Linked DNA regions of Homo sapiens: region 2 is linked to region 1. The links come from fine-mapping of genetic effects on gene expression. Tissue or cell type: whole blood. Region 1 holds a variant in brackets; the other region holds the start of a gene. All regions are shown on one strand. Distances are between the middles of the regions.

What was found. PIP is the estimated chance that this variant, and not a neighbour inherited with it, causes the effect.
Region 2: TRIM28 starts here. The variant in region 1 is fine-mapped to the expression of TRIM28 in whole blood (INTERVAL, PIP 0.98).

What each region holds. Positions count from the first base shown.
Region 1 is chr19:58,570,731-58,573,627 of GRCh38, reverse strand. MZF1 (myeloid zinc finger 1) reads left to right here and starts at 293. Exons shown (of 6, transcript NM_198055.2): 1 at 293-573; 2 at 2,199-2,634. The coding sequence starts at 2,239. MZF1-AS1 (MZF1 antisense RNA 1) reads right to left here. Exons shown (of 6, transcript NR_027334.2): 4 at 1,673-1,770; 5 at 805-1,050; 6 at 1-711. RefSeq lists enhancers at 1-348, 409-498, 1-726, 727-1,588. The variant A/T (reference allele first, on the strand shown) is at 1,401.
Region 2 is chr19:58,542,811-58,545,707 of GRCh38, reverse strand. TRIM28 (tripartite motif containing 28) reads right to left here and starts at 1,644. Exons shown (of 17, transcript NM_005762.3): 1 at 611-1,644; 2 at 171-283. The coding sequence starts at 950. It also overlaps the pseudogene RN7SL525P. RefSeq lists silencers at 624-913, 934-1,093, 1,174-1,383 and enhancers at 1,504-1,813, 1,965-2,469.

The sequences.
Region 1 (2,897 bases):
TTCAGGGCCCGCCCCTCGCCCATGATCACAGAGGAACGTCATCGCGCCGCGCGCGCACGTACACACGAAGGGCCTGCTGACTACATCTGCCGGAAAGCATCGGGCCAAGCCTTTCTCCATTTTGCGGTCTAGGAAGTAGCAGAGGCCCCTTCCTGTAGGGAGTTGCCATGGAGACGCGGTGGGGCACCGACGGAGTTCTAATGACGGCCGTGATTGGTGCAGGATCCTGCTAATCTCAGGAAGGCCCGTAGAGAAGTGAGGAAAACGTGGTGGGGGGCATGCGCGATCTGGTAGGCGGTGCTGCCGTCTGTTGTACCTGAGAGGCTTGCGCATGCCGACGCACGGATTCGAGGCGGGGAGCATGGGAAGAAGCGGCCAGGAGTATGACCTGATCATTGCGACCACCGCTAGGGGAAGGGAGGAGAGGGTGTAGAAACGGGGACGAGGGTGGGGGAAGGGCAAGGAGGCGCTCGAGCTGGTGCGCGGAGCATCCTGGGAGACGTAGTCCAGCGGGAGGGGGAAGTCGAAGACTGCGCGTGCTCAGGAGCGCGGAGCGGCCCGCTGAGCGCAGAGGTGAGGGCGGGGTCCTCTTAACCGGGAGGGCTATCGTGTGGACGGGGGCGGTGGCTGCAGACTCGGGGATTCCGGCTCCCCAGTGAGACCGGAAGCGCGGGGAACGAATCCGGGCAGTCCTTGCGGGAGCGCCCAGGGCTAGAGCGAGAGGCTTGTCAATCACTACTCGTTGCCACGACGACAGGCTTTGGGAGCCCCGCCCCCGGTTGCCTAGGCGTCGTCTGGACCTACCTTGGCACCCTGGAGCGGAAGTTGCCGCCTGGACTTCTGGGAAGTGTATTTCGGGACCCTCCGTAGGTACCTGCCATCTTGGCTATGACCCAAGTCTCTCCCAGGGTTTCAGGTTGACTTGGCACCTTGAAGAGTGGAGGCTTGGCCCCCAGGATGAGGCGGCCCTCGAAATCGATGCCACCCACGGGGGAATGATTCTGCGGTGCCATCCCCTTCATAAACGCAGATTCCTTCCTAAAGCCGCAGCTGCAGAAGGAACAGCGCGAGGAGGGAGGTCAGCCCCACTTGCAAATGGGGAAACAAGTTCTCGAAGGCACAGTGATCTGAAGATGGGCGGAATCAGAGTCTCGGGACTTCCTTGCAGGCTCCTGTTCCGGCAGTCTTGGAGCCTTTGCCGCCCCCCCACCCATTGCGAAGCTCCCCCATCCCCTTCCAACCCCAGCTAAATCAGGAAGCTGAGATGGGGCATTGCGTAGTGTGATGTTGGGCTTAGAAGATGGGGCTGAGTAGGGAGAGAGGGTGCTGCCTGGGAGCTGAGCCATACAAGTGACTGCACAGGTTGACATGGAGGATTAGGTGGAGTGAGGCTTCCAAGC[A/T]GGGAGGGGAATGATGGTGGGGCCCAAATGAGGAGCCACATCGAAGTAGATGAGAGAATAGAAGGTGAAGTAAGGGCTGGCGTTGGGTAGGGGGAGACGCCAGCAGTGATGCTGATGCCCAGGCTGTAGGTGTATAGGTGCCATCCACCTGGTAAAGAGAGAGCTGTAGCGCAGGAATGAGGTTGCACATGTAGAAGAAGGGAAGGATACAGGGGAGAGAAGTGTCTTCTAGTCCTAAAAAACAGCCTGTGGGCTGGCATGGTGGAACAAACCTGTAAGTCCCAGCACTTCGGGAGGTCAAGGTAAGAGGATCATCTGCTTGAGCCCAGGAGTTCAAGAACAGCCTAGGCAACATAGTAAGATCCCATCCCTACAGAAAAATTAAGAAATTAGCCGGATGTCGTGGCACACACCTGTTGTCTCAGCTACTTGGGAGGCCGATCTCTGGAGCCCGGGAGGTCAAGTCTGCAGTGACGCATGATCTCGCCACTGCACTTCAGCCTGGGCAACTGACTGACAGCATGTCTCAAAGAAAAGAAAAAAAAGCCTGTGTTTGGAGCAGGGAGACTGTCAGAGACTTTGCACAGGCCCAAGCGGAGAGAAGACCAGGGATACAGGTGGCTAAGGGAGGGCTTCCAGCTGCATAAGTCTGTGGGTTGTAGATGGCCTTTCTTTGCCTGTTTCCTCATCTGCCTTCCACATGGGGTAGGTCTGAGGATCAAACGGTACAGCATAGACTAGGCAGTGAAGCATTCACTGTACTCCTTTTGCAACAGCCTCATCCTATTTCTTCACCAGGGGCAGACACTGGCCTCAGATACCTGACCTGGTACCCTCTATGAGGCCTGCGGTGCTGGGCTCCCCAGACCGAGCACCCCCAGAAGATGAGGGGCCTGTCATGGTGAAGCTAGAGGACTCTGAGGAGGAGGGTGAGGCTGCCTTATGGGACCCAGGCCCTGAAGCTGCACGCCTGCGTTTCCGGTGCTTCCGCTATGAGGAGGCCACAGGGCCCCAAGAGGCCCTGGCCCAGCTCCGAGAGCTGTGTCGCCAGTGGCTGCGTCCAGAGGTACGCTCCAAGGAGCAGATGCTGGAGCTGTTGGTGCTGGAGCAGTTCCTGGGCGCACTGCCCCCTGAGATCCAGGCCCGTGTGCAGGGGCAGCGGCCAGGCAGCCCCGAGGAGGCTGCTGCCCTAGTAGATGGGCTGCGCCGGGAGCCGGGCGGACCCCGGAGATGGGTGAGTGAGTGTCCACGAGTGGGGTTCAGGACTGGAGCATCATCCAGCTCGGCCTCACCCTGGGCAGCACCACGCTTTGCCAGACACACGTTCTCCCTTGTGGTACAGAAGTGGCCACCTGCAACAGAGACCCTGTGCAAGGCTGCCCAGGGCAGAGGGATTCCAGGGCCAGACTCCCCAGCCCATTCCTGCATCACCTGCAGTCACGTGGACATAGGAGCTGCAGGCTAGGGGAATATGGGGAAGGTACTGGAAGGCCACGA
Region 2 (2,897 bases), 28 kb after region 1:
CATCCCAGAAAATACAACCGGAGATTTAAGATTGGTCCCTTGACCCAACCTAGGCAGCCCACCCAGAGCCTTGGGAAAGTGGAGTAACAGCCTGGAGCTGGTGCCAAGCTCCTCCTGCGCAGATGCCCCCTCCCCAGAAACCTCCTTGTGGTTGCTGAGATAGGACGCACCTGGTTCGCATCCTGGGCGTCGGTGGCAGCCTTGCTGCCACTATCACGCATGAAATAATTCTCCACGATGTCTTTGGAGAAGCACTGTTGCTTGCACACGGGACAGTCCACCACTTCGAGAAGCAGGGATGTGGGAGACTGTTACAAGTTCCCACCCAGGTTATGGCCCCCACCATTCCCCTGCTGGGTGGGCCCCCGACCATTATCCCGCAGCGAACCAGCCCCTCCCCTCCCCGAGCCTTCTTTTCTCCAACTTTAGTCAGATGTCCCATCTCAGCGGCCAGCACAAACCCACGTTCGTATGCAGGACCCAGAAAGTATTTCCCGTGCCCTGTCCGGGCCCCCATCCTCTCGCCCAGGTGGCATCCTCATCTCTGCACCCAGTCGGAATCAAAGGCAGAGAGTAGGGGGAGGGGTGGCACCGATCACTTCGTACTTACCGGTGCCGTCGCCCGCCGCCCCGCCGTCCCCCGAGCTGTTGGCGGCGGCGGGGGCCGCGGGCCCTAAGCAGGCACTACAGGCCGAGTGCAAACAGGGCAGCAGGCGGGGCTCCCTCTCGGGTCGCAGGCGCTCTCTGCACACGCCGCAGTGCTCCAGCAGCTCCAGCGCCTCGGCGCCGCCCCCCGCGGGCGACGACGCCGCGGCTGAGGCAGAGGCCGAGGCTGCGGCCGAAGGGGCGGTGGAGCGCTTTTCGCCGCCAGCGGAGCCCTCGCCCGGGCCCGGGCTGCCAGAGGCGGCCGAGGCCGCTGCTGCCGAGGCTGCCGCCGCGGAGGCCGCCATTCACACGCCGCCGGGGGCGCCCAGGGGGGGAGGAGGGGCGCGGGGCCCGCCGCGCAGGCGCAGACGCGCTCGCCGCCAACTGCTGGGCCGCTGCCGCCGCCGCCGCCGCGAGGCCGAGCGCCGCCACGCGCCTCCTGGGCCGCTGCCCGCCGCGCGCGGGACGCTGCTACGGCACGGCCAACTGCTGCCTGCTCGCCTCCCGAAGGCGCCGCCCGCGCTTCTTCCTCAGCCGCCGCCGAAACCCGCACCACGCGCCACAAGCACAAGCACAACCGCTCGCCCGCGCGCCCGCTCGCAGAAAGAGCCGAGGCCGGGGGGCGGGACAGAAATAACTGGCGCCGACGCCGCCGCGCACGCGCATTGGGCGCCTCACGCCCGGGGGCGGGGCCCAGGCCGGTCGGTGCGGGAGAGGCCGCCAGTACGCACGCGCCAACTCCTAGTCCTTCCACCACCGCCAACCCCACGTCGGTGGGGCTCTTGTGGGGGCGGGGCGGGGCCTCTGTGACGTCACTGCCGCAATTGAATCCGCCAGTGGGGTATGCGAACCTTTATAGAGTGTGATTCCCCTCTCAGCTCCACCTCCAGACCACACAGAAGCGGGCCGCTGTGCGCCCAAGCGCATGGGCAATCCGTCCCTCTTCCTCAACCCGCGTCTCTTCGCCGCCGTAGAGTCGTCTCCAGCCTCTGCGTCACTAAGAGTTCGGGATAGGGGGCAGGGCCGATGGAGAAGTAGGCGGGGCCAAGACCGAGTGAAGGGCTGTGTCCAGGGAGAGGGGAGGAGAGTCTCCATCCCAAGAGGGAGGAAGCTCCTGTGTGAGCTCGGGTGCTGACTTTTGGATTTTAACCACGCTATAGTTAAACTTGAGAAACACAGAAACTTGACTGAATCAAATGTAGATCACAGCCGGGCGCCGTGGCTCATACCTGTAATCCCACCACTTTCTTAGGCGAGTCGGGAAGCTCCGTTTAGCCCAGGAGGCCGAGGCAGCAGTGAGGCGGGATTGTGCCACTGCACGCCAGCCTAGACCACAGATGGAGAAAAATGTGGCCGGGCGCGGCGGCTCACGCCTGTAATTCCAGCACTTTGGGAGGTCGAGGCGGTTGGATCTTAAGTCAGGAGTTCGAGAGCAGCCTGGCCAACGTGGTGAAACCCCGTCTCTACTAAAAGTACAAAAAGTAGCCGGGCGTGGTGGCAGGCGCCTGTAATCCCAGCTACTCGGGAGGCTGAGGCAGGAGAATCGCTTGAACCCGGGAGGCGGAGGTTGCAGTGAGCCGAGATCGTGCCATTGCACTACAGCCTGGGAGAAAAGAGTGAAACTCCATCTCAAAAGAGGAGAGAAAGGTTTTTGTGTTTGTTTTGAGACGGAGTTTTGCTCTGTTGCCCAGGCTGGAGTGCAGTGGCACGATCTCGGCTCGCTGCAACCTCCGCCTCCCGGGTTCAAGCGATTCTTCTGCCTCAGCCTCCCGAGTAGCTGGGATTACAGGGGCCTGCCATCACGCCTGGCTAATTTTTGTATTTTTAATAGAGACGGGGTTTCACCACGTTGGCCAGGCTGGTCTCGAACTCCCGACGTCAGATGATAGACCCACTTTGGCCTCCCAAAGTGCTGGAATTACAGGTGTGAGCCACCACGCCGGGCCCCCCAACCCCCCATCAAGAAAAAAAATATATATATATATATACACATATATATAAATCACAAGAGGCTAAAGAGCAATGAGTCTGTGAAATCCCACCCAGCCCCCCAAGGCATCCCCTCCCCATGTTTTCGTCAGCAGCTACCCTGACTTTGATGCTTTTCCAGATGGGGAAACTGAACCTCAACAGTGGGGAATCCCAAGGAGGGAAGGAAGCAGGTCCATGTGGGGAGAATCCTGTCTGAGGTGGAAAGTAGGGTTTGTGTGGGGAAAATCCTGTCTGAGGGAAAGAGGGTGTGTGTGCGGAGG